Homo sapiens: one gene and its partners. The protein of the gene in region 4 purifies or fractionates together with the protein of the main gene of each other region. This does not show direct contact. Each region holds a gene or a part of one and is shown on either strand. Other genes may lie near its edges.

Region 1 (5,331 bases), on a different chromosome or scaffold from region 4:
AGAACGATATGGCCGGGTACAGTGGCTCACTCCTATAATCCCAGCACTTTGGGAGGTCAAGGAGAGTGCATAACTTGAGGTCAGGAGTTCGAGACCAGCCTGGCCAACATGGTGAAACCCCATCTCTACTAAAAATACAAAAATTAGTTGGGCGTGCTGGCGCACGCCTGTAATCCCCACTACTTGGGTGTCTGAGACAAGAGAATCGCTTGAACCTGGGAGGCGGAGGTTGCAGTGAGCTGAGATCGTGCCACTGCACTCCAGCCTGGGTGACTGAGCAAGACTGTCTCAAAAAAAAAAAAAGAAAAATAATGTTGCATTGTTCACTTATTCAGTGAAATATATAATATATATTGAGCCCTCCCCAGGCTAAGTGCTAGGAATATAGTGGAGAACAGAAAAATAATTGGTATTTTTAATGGAGTTTATGGGTAGGTGATAGGAGAGGTGGTTGTGAATCAGATAATCACACAAATAAATCTAGAGCTGTTTATTATGTGCATGTCATAAAGAAGAAATACAGTGCTGAAAAGTGTGTCAGTGTGGGGGCAGGGGAGACAGTGAAGGCTTTCCTGAGGAAGTGGTATTTGAGCTGAGATTTGATGGGCGAGTAGGTGTCAGATGAAGTGGGGAGAAGAGCATTCGTTGCAAGGGAAGTAGGATGTGCCAAGGTACTGTGGTTGGAGGGTTTTTACAGTAATCTTCTGCTGATAACTGGCTGATTACCCACCAAATAAATCTCTTCAGTGGTGGCAGGTTGAAGCTAAAAAGAAGTAAGGGATGCCTATGAGTCCCATAGAGATAGGTGCATTTGCGTAGGAGACACTTCCCAATGATGTTAAAATCCTAACATGGAGTCAGAGATCTTCCTCCCAGCATGATTTATGTATAACAGTGAATATTAGGAATAATTCCATAATTGAAAGCCAGTATAGCTGAACTGTAGATAGGGGTAGAATAGTGCAAGAAGAGCTTTACTTTTCAGGATTTCCTTGTGATTGTATATTACTTTTATACTAAGCAGTCATTTCAAATAAATATTCAGGTGGCCATTCTTTTCATCTGTTGTAGAGCTAATCTTGCATAAATGTGCATTAAGAAAATAAGATTCAACCAACCCAAATGTCCAACAATGATAGACTGGATTAAGAAAATGTGGCACATATACACCATGGAATACTATGCAGCCATAAAAAATGATGAGTTCATATCCTTTGTAGGGACATGGATGAAATTGGAAACCATCATTCTCAGTAAACTATCGCAAGAACAAAAAACCAAACACCGCATATTCTCACTCATAGGTGGGAATTGAACAATGAGATCACATGGACACAGGAAGGGGAATATCACACTCTGGGGACTGTGGTGGGGTCGGGGGAGGGGGGAGGGATAGCATTGGGAGATATACCTAATGCTAGATGACACATTAGTGGGTGCAGTGCACCAGCATGGCACATGTATACATATGTAACTAACCTGCACAATGTGCACATGTACCCTAAAACTTAGAGTATAATAAAAAAAAAAAAAAGAAAAAAAAAAAGAAAATAAGATTCATTTGGATTTGGAATCAGAGGCAGACTAATGTATTATTTATGAGCTAGACTTATAGGGCACTTTTCCACCAGTGAACTCAGAAAAATATTATAGGTGTGCAATTTATGGTTCCATAAGAAAACAGTCAAAGCAGCAGGCCTTGCTGATAGTATCTTTCATGCTTACACTTACTCCAGTCATTAAGTTTGGGATGAAGAAGTTAACAACAGCTAATCATTTAGTTCTTGTAGATTCATTTTAAGAGCCTGTCATAGTTGTTTTTTATAAAAACTTCCTACAGAGGGGAGATTTCAAGTGCTAAGAATATTTTATGATTTTGTTTTAGGTTACAGGAGGTTCCAGTGGCATCGGGAAGTGCATTGCTATCGAGTGCTATAAACAAGGAGCTTTTATAACTCTGGTTGCACGAAATGAGGTAAGGCTTCTAGGTTCATTATTACTGACTTGCTTCTTCGACTTGAAATTAGTCAAAGAGGCTGTGCTAAACATCTTAGCATTCACACCTAGAAAGCGCTTCTTCCTTGATGTGAGATGTGTTTCCTGAACTACTGATTCTCTCTAGTATTTAGGCCAAACACTTCTCTGTTGAAATCAGGTCGGCCCCACAAGTATTTATTTAGTACCATTGGCATATTAGGCAACATCATCATAGATACTGCAGATCCTGAGATGGGAGAGGCCAAGGTCTAGTTGAAGGAGCACACCTGGCCATTGGAAGCCAGGGAGGGCCCTTGGCCAGGTCAGAAGTGCTGGAAGCAGTGATTCTGGAGCTGATACCTGAAGGTGTGTAGGTGTTTCTCTATAATTTTTCACTACGATTTGCTTAGGACATGATATATATCTCTAGTGAAATCTATACACCATAGAGGAACCTCGTCCCTCCTTAGAAGTTTAGCAAAATGTGTTTTTCTGTATTAAGTCAACACAGAATCTGTTTTTATTTTTTGTCAGGGTTTGTTTTTGTCTTGCCAAAGTTGTTTTTAGAGCACAAAGCAGTGACACTGTGCACGTGAACTGTCATGACGTCCTCTTGCTCCCCATATGGGGACTGGAGGAAAGTGACCACACAGCTGGCTCGTCCGCTGCAGCAATTCTAGTGCTTGACACGTAGTACATGCTCAGACATGTTTGTTGAATGAAGAAATGAAGGGAGGAATGATGGAGTGCCTGGGAATGTCAGCATGGCATACTTCCATGGGGATCTTGGATTCACCCATGTGCAAGGAGGGTGATAGTATGGTAACTCCTCAAATGGGTGGAGGGCTGGACAGGACCCATTAGGAATGGTAGGCCAGGAAGGGCCTTGGGGGAAAATTTAAATAATGTCGCAGACTTAGTCTTGGACCTCTATAATTTCTTTTATTTTTTTCTTTTTTCTTGAGACAGCATCTCACTCTGTTGCCCAGGCTGGAGTGCAGTGGCATGATCTCGGCTCACTGCAACCTCTGCCTCCTGGGTTCAAGTGATTCTCCTGCCTTAGCTTCCTGAGTAGCTGGGACTACAGGCGCCCACCACCACGCCTGGCTAATTTTTGTATTTTTAGTAGAGACAGGGTTTCACCATGTTGGTCAGGCTGGTCTGGAACTCCTGACCTTGTGATCCGCCCGCCTTGGCCTCCCAAAGTGCTGGGATTACAGGTGTGAGCCACCACACCTGGCCTGGACGTCTATAACTTCTTTTGCAAACCAAGAAAGACAAAATTAGCTACCTTTTATTTATAGCTTGACTTTTCTAACAATGAATTTGCTTTGGCATTGAAGCCACCTTACATAAATGAAAACACAAATTTGATGAAATGGCATTTTGTGAGTTTTAAACACCAGTTTTGATGCAAGTAAATAAAAGTGGAGGCAGAGAAGGCCAGCATTTCAGGCCCCCAGGAGCTCATATGGGGCCCTTGCATTGCTAGAAATGAATGAACTGAATGAAGAACCTGTGGTGTTGAGTAATTCATTCTTTTTTTTTTTTTTTTTTTTTTTTTTTTGAGACGGAGTTTTGCTCTGTAACCCAGGCTGGTGTGCAGTGGCGCTGTCTTGGCTCACTGCAACCTCCACCTCCGGAATACCTGGGATTACAGGTGTGTGTAACCACACCTGGCTGATTTGTGTGTGTGTGTGTGTGTATATATATTTACATATATATAAAATATATATTTTTATTATATATATTATATATTTTATATATATATATATTTTTTTTTTAGTAGAGACAGGGTTTTACTATGTTGGCCAGGCTGGTCTCAAACTCCTGACCTTAAGTGATCCACCCACCTCGGCCTCCCAAAGTGCTGGGCTTACAGGCGTGAGCCACTGCGCCCGGCCTCACTGTGTCACCCAGGCTGGAGTGCAGTGACACAATCTCGGCTCACTGCAACCTCCGCCTCCCAGGCTCAACCAATCCTCTCACTTCAGCCTCTTGAGTATCTGGGACCACAGGTGCTCGCCACCATGCTTGGCTAAGTTTTTGTATTTTTGGTAGAGACGGGGCTTCACCATGTTGCCCAGGCTGGTCTCAAACTCCTGAGCTTGGGTGATCCACTCACCTTGGCCTCCCAAAGTGCTGGGATTACAGGGGTGAGCCACCATGCCTGGCTGAGAAATTCTTTCTTTTCTAATGTAATTTTTAATTCCAGTCTTTGCAAAGTCAAGCTGTATGTATCTTTAGTCATAGGACAATATTATTTCATTATAGACATATTCAGGTTTAGAAACTCTGCATGCCTTTTGGAAGAATTCGCCTCTCCTTTGGTTCCTCTCTATTGCATGATATTATTTAAGTTACTTTTTACAGCAAATTAAGATAATCTGATATCTGTTTTCTTGAGACTAAGTAAAACAAACAAAATTAGGACCTTGGAAGAATTACATAATTACACAGGTAACCTTGCTTAAGAGTATTTTATAGTAGCCAGGCCTAGTTTACCCAGTCTATCCAGAAAGTGATTCTTACTATGTTTGGGTTTATAGTAGAAGAAGAAAATATTGGACAAAAAGCAGTATTGACAGGGAGTCACACATACCCTCAACTTTGGGGAGCAGTACATATTAATAGAGTTGTTCTTGTCTTATATCACAACTAAATAATAAGACATTTATTAGAACTGTAGAGTCAGCCTCAGCAATTAGTACTGTTAACTGGGATTTTGAGGTTTATCTGTTTTCTACTATCTTTCTCTAATTAATTTTCAAACTTTTATCACTTATTCATAGCTTAACATACTTCACAACTTCTTTCTTTCATAGGCTGTGGCCCAGTCTGTCTATGCAATGTAGATACTGTTTTGTGTGTTTTCTGGAATTTAATACATACATATAGAAATAATTGCTTTTTTTCTCTCCTTTGCAATAAACGGACATGCATATAGACGGTCATCACGACTAATTATTCTGTATTGCTTTCAGGATAAGCTGCTGCAGGCAAAGAAAGAAATTGAAATGCACTCTATTAATGACAAACAGGTAAATCTCTGTCTTCAGAATGCATTTTCTGTATAACTCAGCACAGCTGTATAAAGGAAAAACAGAGTTACTTCACCTGTGAATAGTTAATTGAAAGCATATATGTACTGTTTTTTAAAAGGTGGAATTGTTTGAATGGTCTAGTAACTCAGAATATCACACACACGCAAAATGAATAGACTCCCACACACATTCATATCTACAAATGGTCAAATAACAGAATGTTTTACTGGCAAATAATTTCATTTTAATTTTTTTTTTAATGAACTTTATACAAATGCTTAAGAGGAAAGGAATATTTAAAATTTATTTG
Region 2 (5,331 bases), on a different chromosome or scaffold from region 4:
CGATAAGAATGAGGGGGAGGTGTGAGAAGGGCAGCAAGAGAGACATTGAAAGGGGAAGTCAAGATACAAGTAGGAGGATAGGAGAGAGAGAAAAGGACTGGGGGCTGTGGCTGGAGGGTGCAACCATGGTGTCTGAGGCCGCGGAGATGGCCAGCGTGCATAACACAGGGTCCCAGGTGTCTGCTGTAGTAGGTTTTTGAAGGCAGCTGGAGAGAGGGGTTGTTTTGGAGAAGGCGAGGCAGACTGGTGCAAGATAAGCTGTCCTGAGAAATGGGAGAGAAGCTAGGCCAGAGAGGAAGCCTGCGGACAAGTGCCCATGGCCTCAGTAGTCACAGGAAAAGGAAAAGGACAGCGAGGGATTGCTACATTTGTGGCCCCTCCCAGAGTTGGGCAGGGCCTCTGAGAGGCCACGGGGCAAGGTTTAGCTCAGGACTGTCCTCACTGTACCCAGGTGGTTTTCCGTGGTTTGAGATCACTGTCAAGGGGCCCAATTTCCTCAAAGTTTCCAAATCCAGTGCTAGAACCGCCTGGACCGCCCTATGGAAGAGAGAAGAAACAAACAAAAATTTTAGTCAGATCTTAGTCTTTACAATGAATGACCACATTTGCTATAGATGGTTTATGAGTTAGTGATGGCTGGGTCAATTTGCACAAAAGACACAATTTCTCTAGTGAACCAGGGACTTCCACATTAGCAAAGCTCCCCTAGTAACTGCTGAGGTTTTTCTCTGAAAGGAGCAGAGCTGAGCTAAGAGGTCCACAATGGAATGTTCCTGACTCCTGATTTTTTCTTTTCTTTTCTTTTCTTTTCAGACAGAGTCTAACTTTGTCACCCAGGTTGGAGTGCAGTGGTGCAATCTCGGCTCACCACAGCTTCTACCTCTGGGGTTCAAGTGATCCTCCCGCCTCAGCCCCCTCAAGTAGTTGGAACTATAGGCGCACACCACCATGCCCAGCCCGGCTAATTTTTGTATTTTTTGTAGAGGTGAGGTTTCACCATGTTGCCCAGGCTGGTCTCAAACTCCTGGGCTCAAGCAATCCTCCCGCCTCAGCCTCCCAAAGTGCTGGGATTACAGGTGTGAGCCATCACACCCAGCTGCCTCCTGATTTTCTGAGCTGGAGCCTTGGCCTGCCGTAGGCCTTGCTGACCTGAAGGAGCTCTAACCGGACTAGACACTGGGCCTTCTGACTCTTCCTCCATCACCCTCTCCCCAGGAGATGGGAGACTCTTCAGAGTCCCTGTGGATTGATAAGGGACCCAGACTTAGAAGCAGTTTGATCAAGCAGATTCTGTGGATATAATGCAGCAGTTTCTAAAGTCCCAGGGCAGGGAGAGTTTGATACTGTGAGCATCCATGGGAGAGGGAAAGGCAGGATTCTGAACCACAGCTCGGTGTTGGGGGCAGTTCTATGGGCTCTGAGGGCTTCAGAGAAAAAAGAAACTAAGAGGCAAATAGGACAGGTTGGGTGGGCTTTCTAATTGAGACAAGAGGAGGCTCTTTGGGAGGTGGTCAGGGGAAAAGATGGTCAGTGCTTTTTCTGGACAAATCCAGGGGCCAATTGAGGTGGGGAGTCTATGAGAAGGGCCCTGTCAGCTGAGGCGAGGGAAAGGGCAGAGGACCTAGAATAAAAGGATATGGCCTCTCTGTGCACTAGCAGGATGGGTAGGAAAGGGAGATATGAAAAGACGAAATGGGGACCGGGTGCGGTGGCTCACGCCTGTAATCCCAGCACTTTGGGAGGCCAAGGCAGGCAGATCACTTGAAGTCAGGAGTTCGAGAGGAGTTCAAGTCCTCCCTGGCCAACATGGTGAAACCTTGCGTCTACTAAGAACAGGAAATTAGCCGGGTGTGGTGCGTGCGCCTGTAGTCCCAGCTACTCGGGGGGCTGAGGCACGAGAATCACTTGAACCCAAAAAGTGGAGGTTTCAGTGAGCCGAGACTGCGCCACTGCACTCCAGCCTGGGTGACAGAGCGAGACCTCATCTCAAAAAAGAAAAAGAAAAAAAAGATGAAAGGGAATACCTTGGGCAAAACAAAAGCCAGGGCAATTTGTGTAGGGAAATCTAAAGAAAAAAAAAAAAAAGACAAGATAGAGTCAGGGCTAAAGGGTAACTAGCAACGGCAAGAGGGCCCCAAAAGGGAAAGACTTTACAACACTAATGTTTTGAACCTGGACCAACCTAACTCTGATAAAATTGGAAGGCTATACATCCCCCTGATCATATGCCCTTTGTATCTTAAGATTTCCTAAGCAGTAAAAAGTTCACAAACCAGATGAAGATGTTAACCGCAGTCCTATTAAAAATAACAGAAGTAAGGGTGCAACTCAAACGTCCCCCAAATAGGGGAACAGGTTAGGCAACCATACCACATCTACTGCATGGAATGCTACACTGCCACTTAGAATCATGAACTACGAAAAATGATGTGGCAACATTGAAAAATATTTATAATGCAATATGCAATAAATTAAAGCCAGGGATCTACCCTCCAATGAAAGCTGGGTTCCTTTTTCCTAATGGACTTATTAGGATGAGGTAGGATCAAAGCAAAAGGAGAAAAGCTGGAAATCCTAGGGGTTGGGTCTTTGTGGGAGAAATCTCAGTTCTCCTCTGCTTCTGGTATGCCAGGGAGACAGCAGAAGATGACCTCTCCCTCTCCTCTCTCCTCATTCCCCTCTCCTCAAAAGGCAATGAGATGCTGGATGGAGGAAGCCTCTGTTCTACGTGAATATATCCTATTGTAAAACCTCTTTTTTGTCTAGAACTTTGGGATAGGGTGCTAGCATGGCCCAGGGCTATCCAGAAACTCTGAGACACAGTCAGTGTGTCAGTGGACCAAGTGAAACGCTTCGAAGACTTGAAAGTGTCCCTAACATAGTTTGCTAACCCACTCAGAAGACATGACTTCGATTCTCAAAGATTCCCCCGAGAGAAGTCAGCACCATGTCCTCAGTAGGCTGCTAAAATAGATCTCCTTTTCATCTAAATTAGTTATTTCTTCTGTAAGCATAATCTTTCTTCTTCTCTCTTGGGTCTCTGGGTAAGTGAAGAGCAATTTATTCTCTTCAGTTGATAAACTTCAAAGGAGAAGCCTCAGCCTCAGCACTTGTGCTTTTGTCTGCTTTGTCTCCCCTTTGTAAGCTTTCATTTGGGGGTAAAAAAAAAAAAGAAAAGTTCTGCTGATGAACAAAAAGTTTGAAAACCACCAAAATCTCCCAGATTAGACAGCCAAGGCCCAGAGGAGGAAGTATCTTGCCATGGCTCTAAGTGGCAGGTAGGCACTGAAAACCCGAGGCCCCTGACGGCAGGCCTGAGCTTGTCCACGGCCTGGCTCTCCCTGCCAATTGTGCCGCACCTTTGTCTCCAGCCACCGGAGGTGAACAGGGCTCCCCAGGCTGACATACAAGGGTTCTTTTTCTGCATTATCATAACCGCACCTGGGGCTGAGCCTCAGCTCTAGCCCTCAGAGGTGGCACAAGTGATAATTCCAAAAGAGAAAGGCCCCTCCCTGAAAACTGCTCATTTTCGCTCTATCTCACCAGAAAGTCTGCATCGACCATCCTGGGAGGCAAAACCCAGGTGGTGGGAGGCTGCTTATAAATACCAGCATTGTTGGAAGACGTCCCAGTAGCATCCTATGGAGGTGAGCACCAGGGTCCCTATTTACTGATGAGGGGCCCAGGGTTCCAGCTGGGCCATGCCTACATTTTCCAGAGGCAAGACCATGTTCCTTAATTCCTCCCTGGTGGGTGGTCTTCCGGGTGGGGGTGGGCCATCTCTGGACAGATATTTCAGAAATGCCAGAAAAGAGCCTCTGCCTGTCCCTACAAATCTTTCAACCAGCTCCCTGCCTTCCATCCTACAATCAGAGCTCAAGGTTAAAATGCAAACACACTCAGGGAAAGGGGGAAGGCGCAACAGTCACACGAAGGTGCAGAAGGCTTGTAGCAGTCCCTTCAAAAGATCAGGTTTTCTGGGGGTAAGAAGTTAGGGTTCAGGAAAGGATTGTATGGAGAGGAAGGGAGGGTCAGGCTACCTCAGGTCTTTGCTTTGGAACCTTCCATAACACTTTCTTTTCTTTTTTCTTTTGAGATAGGGTCTTGCTCTGTCGCCCAGGCTGGAGCGCAGTGGCACGATCTCAGCTCACTGCTACCTCCGCCTCCCGGGTCCAAGCAATTCTCATGCCTCAACCATCTGAGTAGCTGGGATTATAGGTATGTGCTACCATGCCTGGATAATTTTTGTATTAAATATTTTTAGTAGAGACAGCGTTTCACTATGTCGGCCAGCCTGGTCTCGAACTCCTGGCCTCGTATGATCCACCCACCTCGGCCTCCCAAAGTTCTGGGATTACAGACATGAGCCACTGTGCCCGGCCTCAAAACACTTTCTATCACTATGTATTCAAATGTATCATCAGGAGTTTTCAGTGAGCCTTCTTGTGACCGTCTGGAAATATAAAGAGACTCTGGCAAAAGGCTAGAACCCCCTCGCCCTCTGATTTAGCCTCCTTGGCTATACCATTGCCTCAGCCTACCTCAGAAGCACGCCGAACCCCCAGGTCACACTGCTGGACCAAATCCGCCCTTCACTGCTGAGACATCAGCCCAAAAAGCAAGCAAAGAGCCACACAGAGGAGACTTGGCTTTGACCTCAGGCCAGGCTGGGAAGCTACTTTACCTGAAGCCACATGACCAGGGGCAGTTCTGAGAAGTTCTTGCAGGAGTTGGTGGCATAATAGAGCCACCAGAACATGTAGGCATCCTTGCGGACCGTCACATAATCCCATACTTCCTTGCCCTCCTCTGTGGGCCAGTCAATGACAGCTCCTGAAACAGAAGTTCAATTTCACTCTCCAGAAGAGTGCCTAATGTACAGGTAAATTCCAAGCCTGGTAGAGACAGCCATGCTAGGCTAGAGATGATTTGTTTTATAGTTTGGTAATTTAGCCACCCCAGTACATTGCAGGAATAAGGAAAAAACCTCGGCTATGAAAAAAGAAACCAAACTTAACAGCGGCATAGGAGGCCAGGGGCTTTCACTTTTTCCTCTACACTTTTCTGTAATGTTTGGATTTTTAACAATAAATATGAAACACTTTTTTTTTTTTTTTTTTTTTTTTGATACGAAGTCTCGCTCTTGTTGCCCAGGCTGGAATGCAATGGCGCAATCTCGGCTCACCGCAACCTCTGCCTTCCGGGTTCAAGCGATTCTCCTGCCTCAGCCTTCCAAGTAGCTAGGATTACAGGCATGCACCACCACGCCTGGCTAATTTTGTATTTTTAGTAGAGATGGGGTTTCTCCATGTTGGTCAGGCTGGTCTCGCA
Region 3 (5,331 bases), 5.8 Mb from region 4:
TTCTTCAACCTGGAAAAAAAAATCCGCAACACAGCTCTTCTCAACTGGGAATTTTGAGAGTGAAGCGCTACCGTGTAACTGTCTTATAAGACACTTTTCCTCAAATGGTAATGTTGATATTTCCTGTATGTGCAGAGGGACTTGAGTAACAGTTTTTTTCCTCCACCTATACTGATAATGCTGATTATAAAAAACAGAAATCCAGTAAACCAAATGGAAGACAAACTCACATGCTTATAAACTAGTTCATGATTCTGTCACTTGTGATCCATGAAAACAGCATTATATCTTACAATATAAAACAGCTTAAGTCCAAACACCTTGTTATCAGGATGCTGTCTAATGGAAGAATGATTTGCTAAGGGTCGTATGCCTTCTGGCCCTCACATCCCCCAGCATTTGGCAACTGCTCATCCTGAACGCCAGCACTTGTCTGCTCTGGGGTTTCTCAACTGCATGGTCATTGATTCTTCCTCCTCCCTCACACACTGCTGTCCTGCCTGCATGCCCCCTTATCATTAGGTGCTGTCGGCCGCCACCGCTGGCTTCCTGCTCTGCTTGCACAATGAGTAGGCAGCAACTGCTGGCCACCACTCTCAAATGTCACCATTAGGCCAGTCAAATGGCATCCAATGTGATGCCTTCAATTATGGGCATCATTGATGGGCAGCGAGATGCACACCTTCTCAAGTTTTTAATGATTTATCTTGCTAGGTGCTTATTAAGGATTGTAACATCTTGCAGTGAAAGTGGCTTCCTGGAAACCTATAATTCTTACTGTTTGGCCTTTCAGGATCGTCTCTTCCACTTCCTTCAGCATTTTTTTAAAACATGAACTGAAGTATTCGTTTAAATGGGGAAAGAGGAGGGGTACTGAGGCCTGCCTTCTGCCAGTCCTTCTGCGGAACACAGTGGTAGTTGGCTGGGCAAGCACATTCTCTGCTCATCCTCTGACCTCATTCATTTCCCCAAGGCCACAGATAAGCCATCAGGCTGCCGTTCACAAACGGACATCACAACAGCCACTGATGTTTGCCGGCTTGGCAAGGGGAGCCCATTCAGGAGTTCTGGGGTCTGTATAGCAAAAGGAAACTCTCACATCACAGAGGAGGAAAAAGGGAGAAAATTCAGGTATTGCTGGACTGACGGGGGAAGCCAGAGAGTTAGATAAGCAGGAAAGAGTGGGGTGATATTGGAAATAGGAACACACTTTTTGAGCCACAGGGCCAGTCACTCTGTTGGGATTCTTTCATTTAATCCTCACAACAATCCTATGAGGTAGACGTTATCATTTCTCCATGCAACAGAGGAGGAAACCAAGACTCATAAGCCTCTACATGGTGGGGCCAGTGTGGCTCCCAGGCCCATGCTAGCCCTAACTATCTCCCAGGAGTCTTCAAACAGTTTCCTGGGCTACAGGAGCATTTGTAGGTGATTTTATACACACACACACAGACACACACAAACACATATACACACATATATACTTTTTTTGGTCAAAAACATTGAGTAACCTCCATTCAGCCTTAAACTGTTATCATGGCAACAGAATGGCAGTTTGCATTTGTGCTGAGAATTTTCTGACTCCATTTCGGCAAGGTATTATGCTAGGGTCAGCCAAGCAAAGATGCATCTGAAATTTACACACCCAAGCTGGAAAGCAGATGTCTCCTAAGAGAGGTCTGAGAAGGTGATGTGGTTTTCAGAGCTGGGGAAGCATCTAAGCAAGCGGAGGGAAGGACAAGGGGATGGCTTCTGTCTGAGTTATTTCCACAGCACCTTCCATACCTTTTCCATGAGTCAGACGGGCCATGCATTACTCAAAAGTATCTAGTTAAATCCTATTTAAAATAAAGGGCACAAGGCCAGTGCCCAGTGCTTGATATATTTTAAAATATGTGGAATGAATTAATGAATGTAAAAAACACCCAAGACAAACACAGGCTGCACATAACCTTATTTTAAGGTTTGTCTTTAAATCTCCTTTTGGGGAAAAGCATCAAAGGGCAGTTCAGGAAATGCCAAAGCATTAAGATGCATTCAGTTCCACTGTCAGAAAGACCTTCTGATGTACTTCCAAGAGAACATTACAAACAAACCTCACATCTATTCAAACACAAAAATGCATGTCCTCTTGTTCACCTCATTCATCCTTAATCCAAGACACTCTCCTTTCACCTGGACAAGTACCTATCAGCATTTGCTGTTTTAAAAACTGGCAACACCAGATAAGAAAGATGATCAGAAACACTGAGCGTCTCCTTGCTGGGTAAGGTAAATACCTTAGAAAGGTTAAAATGACTCATGCATTTCAAAATTCAAATTTTGAATCAATTAATTTGGACTTTTTCAAAAGAGGGATGCTTTATACTCTGTATCTTGCCTATGGCTATAATTTTGGTCATAAAGTTATGAATTAAATCGTTCTGTGTGTTCACATATACCCCAAAGTCCATATACAATGATTTTTCCATAAAAATCGTAAAATCATCTCTAAAATCCTACATACAGTAAAGACAAGACAGCAACTATTACTGAATGCTGTAAGGGTTATGAGAAAAGCAACAGCACCACAAATGGCTAACCTTGGGCATAAGTACAGGAGGCAGAAAGATTGTGTCCAAGATTTTCAAGAACCATAGAAAATCAAATTGAATGATTCCAGGTTTATACTTGGTCGACAAAAGAGCAACACTGATGCTAATCTATGTACAAAAATAATTTCATTCTCCCAGTTTATAAACATAAGCTTGAAAGAAATAACTTTCACAGTAATAAAAAAATAAAAGAAGTAACTGCTCTATGTGGTACAAACTAAAAAGGAATTCTCACCATTTATGTTTGAAGGCTTTAGAATGAAACCATGAGGAAGCTATCAGGAAGGCCATGCTAAAATTATCAAGAAATGCTCACTGCATCCTAAATTTTTCTTACCATTTTTTCTTCTTTGGCAGGTGGACTTCGAAGAAAAAAGCAGAGAGGGGCAAAAAGAATATCAATTATCCCAATAATTGTCATGAGCCATGGAAATCCAATTGCCTTTGCAATAGCACCACCAGCAGAAGGACCTTTCAGGAAACAGAGAATTAGATAAAGCTCTTCCAAATGTCTTGTAGACTGAAAGATGCAAAGATTTAAACAATTTTAGTAGACGTTATCCATTACGTATTGAGGTAAAAGGTTCTTATGAAAAGCCAATGTCCTTACCTATAGCATACCCCATACAAAATGCCACATCCGCAATGGCGTACACACTCCCATAGACGGACACGTGCCGCAGGTCTACGAGGTAGCCCATGATAGGCATCATTGACGAATCCACCATTCCTGAAGACAGTCAGGGAACACAGTGTATAGAAAACGGATGTAAACCCAAAATGGGCCGAATATCAGGGAGTGTGTCTTAAACTCACCACCCTGCCAGCTCTTCCCCTTCTGTCATCACCACCTGCAAGTCTTGGGGTGATACTAATCTTTGAGTAGAAAGAATGAAGGAAGCCTTTTCTGACCCCCAGAGGAGGTCAGGTTCCCCTCGTATACAGATGTTCTCTCACAGCATCATCTCAATTGTCATTCATTCTTCAATTCTTTGCTAAATGCCCAACTCTTCTGTTGGTTTTGTTCACCCATATCCCCAGCACTTGTACATATTAGGAAGCAGCAAGCACCATTTCAATGAAAGAAACTTTCCTCATGTGCCTGCCACTGACACATGTGGAGGGGAGGGCACCAACCTCTGAGTCCCTGCCAGTGTGTTCACAGACACTGGCTCACAGCAGCCAATCATGAGCATCCCCATTTTATAGATGAGGAAACCAATACTCAGAGAGGCGAGGCTTGACCACACTCACTGAGCCAGGGAGTCTGAGCCAGGAACTCTGAACACACACCATCTTTATGCTACCTGCTCCCCACTATTCAAGAGACGAGATTCTAATGCTGGTCGTGGTTGTTGCTGGGGTGTATGTCTGTATGTATATGTGTGTATTTATGAGTATGTATGTATATGTATATATGTATCTGTGTATGTCTATGTATATGTGTGTATGCATGTGTGTATGTGTATTATGTATATGTATATATGTATCTGTGTATGTATGTGTATATATGTGTGTACATGTGTTTGCATGTGTATGTGTCTGTGTATATGTGTTTGTGTATGTACTTGTATTTGTGTATGTGTGTGTATGTGTATGTGTGTAGGTGTGTGTGTATGTGTGTATATGTATGTGTGTATGTGTGCATATGTATGTGGGTGGGTGTTTGTATGTGTATGTGTATCTACGTGTATGTATGTATGCATATGTGTGTATGTATATTTGTGTATGTGTATGTGTTTATGTGGGGGGTGTATGTGTGTATGTGTGTGTGTATGCGTGTGTCAGTGTGTGTATGTGTGTTTGTGTGTATGAATGTGTGTGTTTGTGTATGAGTGTGTATGTGTATGTATGTGTGTGCATGTGTGTTTTAGCTTCTTTTAGTTCACACACATACACACAACACACACATACACACTCATACACACAACACACACATACATGGATACACATGCATACACACACACACACACATAAACATACATACACACACATAATTTCTGAGCAGGGCCAGATGATCTCTCGGACTCCTTGGAGTTCTGGGGCGTTCTGGTCCCCCCTATTATTCTCCACCTTGGAAACACCCATAGTCTAAGCGTGTGGCCCAGGTGTGACTGGCAGGAGGTGGGTCAGGCATGCAGGTGTGCTGAGTGGTGAGGGACAAGTGAACCAGAAAACAGCAAAGCAGGGAAGCACCAAAAGGATGCAGGCCAGGGGCCGTACAGTTAGCAACCTGCAACTCTGCCAGACCTGCAGAATGGCAAGGGGAGCCGCCAGAGGACTAGCACCCTCCCTAAAAAGATGGGCCAACCAGACAGTGGAGGACAAGGGGAGGCAAGGCAGAGGACAGGCAAACGGTCACCTGAGAAGGACCTAGAGTACCATACTGAGTTCTACCCCAGCCTCAGCAGCCTTCTACCATCTGTCCTCAGTGAAAGCCATGCTGTGCCACTGTACCACTCAAAGGTTGCGTTCCTGCTTCTACAGGGGTGGACTGAGCACTTATTTTTATCATGATCAATTGGTATATTATAAATAAGAGACAAAAGTATACCATTCACTCAAAATAGTGACAGATTTTTCCTAACATATTATCATTCTTAACATTACAAAAGCCCATCTCCTTGCCCATGGGAATTCCTGCAGCACAGGCGGTCATCAACACATTAGTCTGCTTTGTCTGTACTAAAACCTCTTCAAAATACATATGTGAAGCCTTTGCCCCCAGCCTCAT
Region 4 (5,331 bases):
GAGATCTCCCCCGCGGTGGTCGTTCCTGCAGCGGGGCTGTCTGCAGAGTGATGCATTGCCTGCACCCTGCTACTCATCTCCACAAACCACTCCTGTGCAGATGCAGCCTCACCTGCCTCCTCACTCCCATTGTCCTGGGTTTTTGGCATAATGGCTTGCAAAAACACTATTTCCACGTTGGGAGAGATTAGTGACTTTTTTAGAGAAGCAATGTCTCTGATATCTGTTCGAGTCATTGTAATGAGGTTTCCGGAGTGCCCTCCTCAGTTCTCAGGCAAACCCAGATCCTTCCGTTCTTCCTCGTTTCTGGTTTTCTCACCATTCAGTCGCTCGCATTTCTGGTTCCCTTTTCCTGTTGTAGCCCAAAATGTAACAGCCACAGCCCTGACTGCAGCATAGTGTGACTCCAGGAATGTCTAGAGAGAGACTAAGAGAATTATCCTTCTGTTAGCAGCTGTGGGTTTTGAATTACACATGCACACATTCTCTTTGTGAAATTGAGAGTACTATGTGAGTTTCAGTAACGATGGAACTGGGTCGTTGGAAAGGCTTGGCTGGCACTGGTCGTGTTTACCAGGCCCTCGTGCTTTGGCTAGTGTGGCTCTAGCAAACACCACCACATGTTCTCTGCTAACCATCCTGAACTTATGAAGTGGCGTAAAAGGAATGGTCATTCAATTATTAACTTGGCTGAAAAAGTCAAGGTGAAAGAGCCTGACTAGAAGAAACTTTGCCAAATGAAACTATAGACATCCCATTGAGGAGTAGGTTATTTTCTTCTGTTTCCTTATTACATTGAAATCAGCATAAGGTGGGTAGGGCATGTTGAAAAATCAAAACCCCACCTACCTGCTTTAAGCAGGCAACAACAGTTCTTAGCAAGAAAGGTCATCTAAGTATATAAGATATTTTCTCATTCCATTAAGCTACCCTTTAAAGCATTTTACCTCTCATTATTTTTTGAATCCCAAAAGGAAGCAAATGATAGCATATAATTTTATCCTTTTCAAATATACAGTTTCTGTTACAGATTTTTTTGTTACTTATGGCAAAATTGCTATACCAAATTAAAATAAAATATAAATACAAAATTTTAAAATTAAGAATAATTATGGTGGCTGGGTACAGTCGCTCACGCCTGTAATCCCAACACTTTGAGAGGTTGAGGTGGGTGGATCACCTGAGGTCAGGGGTTCGAGACCAGACTGGCCAACATGGCGAAACCCCATCTCTACTAAAAAAAAAAAAAAAAAATTAGCTGGGTGTGATGGTGGGCACCTGTAATCCCAGTGACTTGGGAGGCTGAGGCAGGAGAATTGCTTGAACCCAGGAGGTGGAGGTTGCAGTGAGCTGAGATTGCGCCATTGCACTCCAGCCTGGGAGACGGAGCAAGACTGTCTCAAAAAAAAAATAATAATAATAAATATGGTTACAGTTTATTTTTTAACTTGTTCATGCAAGAAATTTCCCCATATAAAAATAGCTTTCTTAATCTATGTTGCCTTGTTTTTTCTTTAGTTGATGGGTATTGAAGTTGACCCAGAATATGGAGGCACAGGAGCTTCATTTTTATCCACTGTGCTCGTGATAGAGGAATTAGCCAAAGTTGATGCATCTGTGGCTGTCTTTTGTGAGATCCAGAACACATTAATTAACACACTGATTAGAAAACATGGAACAGAAGAACAAAAGGCCACCTATTTGCCTCAGCTCACTACAGAAAAAGTGAGTTGAGATGAATTGTTGATCTAATGGATCTAATCTTTAGTAAGTTTACAATATTTTCAGGAAAAAAGTAGCTGCAATGTCGACTTTACTATCCAAGACCACAATGCGGTATCATTAATTCAAGCAATGCTTGATAAATTAATGCTGCTGGAAAAGTACACTCTACCTCTTATTTGCCAGTTGGAAATTTAGAAAATAATCATCAGATAATAAAATTATTTCTTTTTGTCCTGATTATATTTTCTAATACGTTTGTTGATGGTTTCATTTACGTTGTGATGTCTTTCTGCTGTAATTATTCAAATCAATTTCAATGAGTATGTGTTCGTGAGTCTTTAAATTTGTCTTGGACAAATAGGGTATATTTTTTGGAAAATAATACTTTCAGAATACCATTGCTATTTTCATAAATATAGGCTTTTTAAAAAAGCAGCTAAAGATTTGATTTACAAATGTCCATTTTTCCATAAGTATTTGTTATACAGAGTATAAATACAGTTATTAATTTGGACATTTTTTTCTCCCATATGTAGGTAGGAAGTTTCTGCCTTTCAGAGGCTGGAGCAGGTAGTGACTCATTTGCTTTGAAGACCAGAGCTGATAAAGAGGGAGATTATTATGTCCTCAATGGATCAAAGATGTGGATCAGCAGTGCTGAGCACGCAGGGCTCTTTCTGGTGATGGCAAATGTAGACCCTACCATTGTAAGTTTGAAAACGAAATTTCTTTCTTTTTCCAAACCCCTTCTTTTCTCTTTCTTTATCTTTTCCTCCTTCTGTTTCCTTTTTAGGACTTCATCTTGAACTCTTTAGTCTTCTCAGTACTGAAAATGTCAGACTTGAGCTGGCATTTTTTCACTTCGTTAATCTCCTAAAGTAAATATTGTTGACAAAATTATTAATTAGAATTGGCCCACCATATCTGTGGATTCAACCAACTCTGGATTGAAAATATTTGATTAAAAAAAAATTCTGCAAAGTTCCAAAAAGTAAAACTTGAATTTGCTTTGTGCCAACTACCATATTGAATTCACGTGAATAAAGTGACATGCATGTATTATGTTAGGTATCAGATAATCTAGAGATGATTTAGAGTCTACCGGAGCATGTGCATAGGTTATATGCAAATATTACACCATTTTATGTAAGGTACTTGAGCACTGTCAGATTTTGGTATCCATGGGGGTCCTGGAACCACTCCGCCACAGATATGGAGGGATGACTGTTTGTGGAGGACCAACTGTTACTTAGCTCCTAATGGGTTATGTAGGAAGCTAATCTTTTTTCTTTTCTTTTTTTTTTTTTTTTTAATATGGAGTCTCGCTGTATCTCCTAGGCTGGAGTGCAGTGGTGTGATCTCACCTCACTGCAACCTCCTCCTCCTGAGTTCAAGCGATTCTCCTGCCTCAGCCTCCCAAGTATATGAGACTACAGGTGTGCACCACCACGCACAGCTAATTTTTGCATTTTTTGTAGAGACAGAGTTTCGCCATGTTGGCCAGGCTGGTCTCAAACTCCTGACGTCGGATGATCTGCCTGCCTCGGCCTCCCAAATTGCTGGGATTATAGGCGTGAACCACTGCACCTGGCCCTAATCTTTAATTTTGTTGAATTTCCAATTTCTGTTTAGTAATGAAGAATTTAAGTACCTATTTAGTACATTTATTTTTAAGAATATTTTATTCAGTTGGAAAATAGACATATAGCAAAATAATAAATACATTTTTTCACCAGTAAATACAGTATTTTCACTAATGTAACAATTGAATTAAATTGTTAAAACTTTTTTTTTTTTTTTTTTTTGAGACGGAGTTTCGCTCTAGTTGCCTAGACTGGAGTGCAAGGCTGTGATCCCAGCTCACTGCAACCTCCGCCTTCTGGGTTCAAGCAATTCTCCTGCTTCAGCCTCCTGACGGGTGCCTGCCACCACACCCAGCTAATTTTTGTATTTTTAGTAGAGACGTTTTTTCACCATGTTGGCCAGGCTGGTTTCAAACCCCTGACCTCAGGTAATCCGCCCGACTCAGCCTCCGAAAGTGCTGGGATTACAGGCATGAGCCACCGCACCTGGCCTAAAACTTTATATAGTAAAATTAAATTGAGAACATGACATTCTCATGATTATATAATAGTGTAATAATAATTTTAATATTTATGATGGTCTCTGAAAAAGTGAAACAAATGGTAAGGTTCTATAGTTTGGATCTAATGTCCTCTAGCTGCTCTCGTTTCATAATGCCCATGTTGCAATTCTGAGTCCATTAGTATTTATTACCAAAGTCCATTTTTAGTTTTCTTTTTACTTAAACTCTTCAGAAACAAGGCGTTTTATAAATCCAAGTGGTAATAGCGTTTTAATTCTTCTTTTTAGGGATATAAGGGAATTACCTCCTTCTTAGTAGATCGTGATACTCCGGGCCTTCATATAGGGAAACCTGAAAACAAATTGGGGCTCAGAGCTTCTTCCACCTGCCCGTTAACATTCGAAAATGTCAAGGTGGGTATCGTAGACTAATCAGTAAAAGACTGATGCGAAATAAGCCTTGCATGGAACCACAGGAGGTGTGCAAGACAGGTGTCAAAATACTAAGTGGCTATAAGCACACGCAGGAGAGTATTTTGTAAAACCCTGAACAGCGCTCTTTAGTCATGACCAGATAAATGTACTTTTCACAAAAGTGGAAACCTTTCTGCCAAGAAGCTGTCCTGGGAAGCAAGTGCCAAGAATTCATCCCATTTATGTTTTATAACTTATGTGCTTCTGACCACGTATACTTTATAAGCTTGAGACTTGTGAACCAAATGGGGCCGCAGAGAAGGAAGTCTGGTGTCAGTGCACTAAAGGCCACAAGATGGGGGTGTTGCTCAGTGAGAGCGGAAACAGCCAGGCTATTAAACGTGAGCAGCAGAAGATCCAGATAGTTAGTGCTGATGCTGGAGAACTCCCTGTAGGTGGGGCAGGTGGTGTCGGCTTTTCCACCACTCATCACAGAGCTTGATCTTTTTTTTGCATGGCTGTGGGGAGTGAGGGGGAGGATGTCTTTACAGATGTCACTGGGGCCTCATTACTTCACCCCAACTGTTTTCCTCATTCTTACTTTCCCATTTCTTTCTCCATTCTTCCCTGCTCTCTCCCCCAACTACCCATATTACAAAACTAAGTATAGTTTTTTATTATTCTTAATTCTTTATTTTTTTAAAGTATGAATAAGCATTTTAGTCTGTTTCTTCTCTCTTCCTCTTTCTTGTGCATACACCTGTGTACACACATGCACACACACATATACCCCACCGTTGATTTTTATGAGGGTGAATGGTCTCAACAGCAGAAAGGCTTACTACACTTGTTTTTGCAAGTATTTGCAGATCTTTGTAGTTCCTAATATGTTATCTCACACTGTAGCCTACAGATAAGAATTGGGGGGGAAAAGTATTAATTTATGTTATTGATGAATTCTATGAGATTCCCTTACTCTAGATTCACTCATCCATTCAATACCTGTGCAAGGCTCTGGAGGATGCAATCATGAACAGCATGGACTTGAGTCCTTTTCCTCAGAGAGCTGTGGAAAAACAGCGTAGAGGGAGACACAGATGCCGGCAA

The links.
Region 1: the proteins of ACADSB (region 4) and KDSR fractionate together in Homo sapiens (co-fractionation; one large-scale study listed by BioGRID). This does not show direct contact.
Region 2: the proteins of ACADSB (region 4) and SCPEP1 fractionate together in Homo sapiens (co-fractionation; one large-scale study listed by BioGRID). This does not show direct contact.
Region 3: the proteins of ACADSB (region 4) and SLC18A2 purify together in Homo sapiens (co-immunoprecipitation; one large-scale study listed by IntAct). This does not show direct contact.

What each region holds. Positions count from the first base shown.
Region 1 is NC_000018.10:63,359,423-63,364,753, reverse strand, and holds part of KDSR (3-ketodihydrosphingosine reductase), read left to right. Parts: exon of another isoform or gene 1-1,061; intron 1,062-1,885; coding exon 1,886-1,975; intron 1,976-4,961; coding exon 4,962-5,018; intron 5,019-5,331.
Region 2 is NC_000017.11:56,980,584-56,985,914, reverse strand, and holds part of SCPEP1 (retinoid-inducible serine carboxypeptidase precursor), read right to left. Parts: intron 4,834-5,331; coding exon 4,685-4,833; intron 538-4,684; coding exon 448-537; intron 1-447. UniProt on the Homo sapiens protein: May be involved in vascular wall and kidney homeostasis.
Region 3 is NC_000010.11:117,268,067-117,273,397, reverse strand, and holds part of SLC18A2 (synaptic vesicular amine transporter), read right to left. Parts: intron 3,328-5,331; coding exon 3,208-3,327; intron 3,069-3,207; coding exon 2,935-3,068; intron 1-2,934. UniProt on the Homo sapiens protein: Electrogenic antiporter that exchanges one cationic monoamine with two intravesicular protons across the membrane of secretory and synaptic vesicles.
Region 4 is NC_000010.11:123,038,948-123,044,278, forward strand, and holds part of ACADSB (short/branched chain specific acyl-CoA dehydrogenase, mitochondrial isoform 1 precursor), read left to right. Parts: intron 1-1,518; coding exon 1,519-1,725; intron 1,726-2,261; coding exon 2,262-2,432; intron 2,433-4,098; coding exon 4,099-4,224; intron 4,225-5,331. UniProt on the Homo sapiens protein: Short and branched chain specific acyl-CoA dehydrogenase that catalyzes the removal of one hydrogen from C-2 and C-3 of the fatty acyl-CoA thioester, resulting in the formation of trans-2-enoyl-CoA.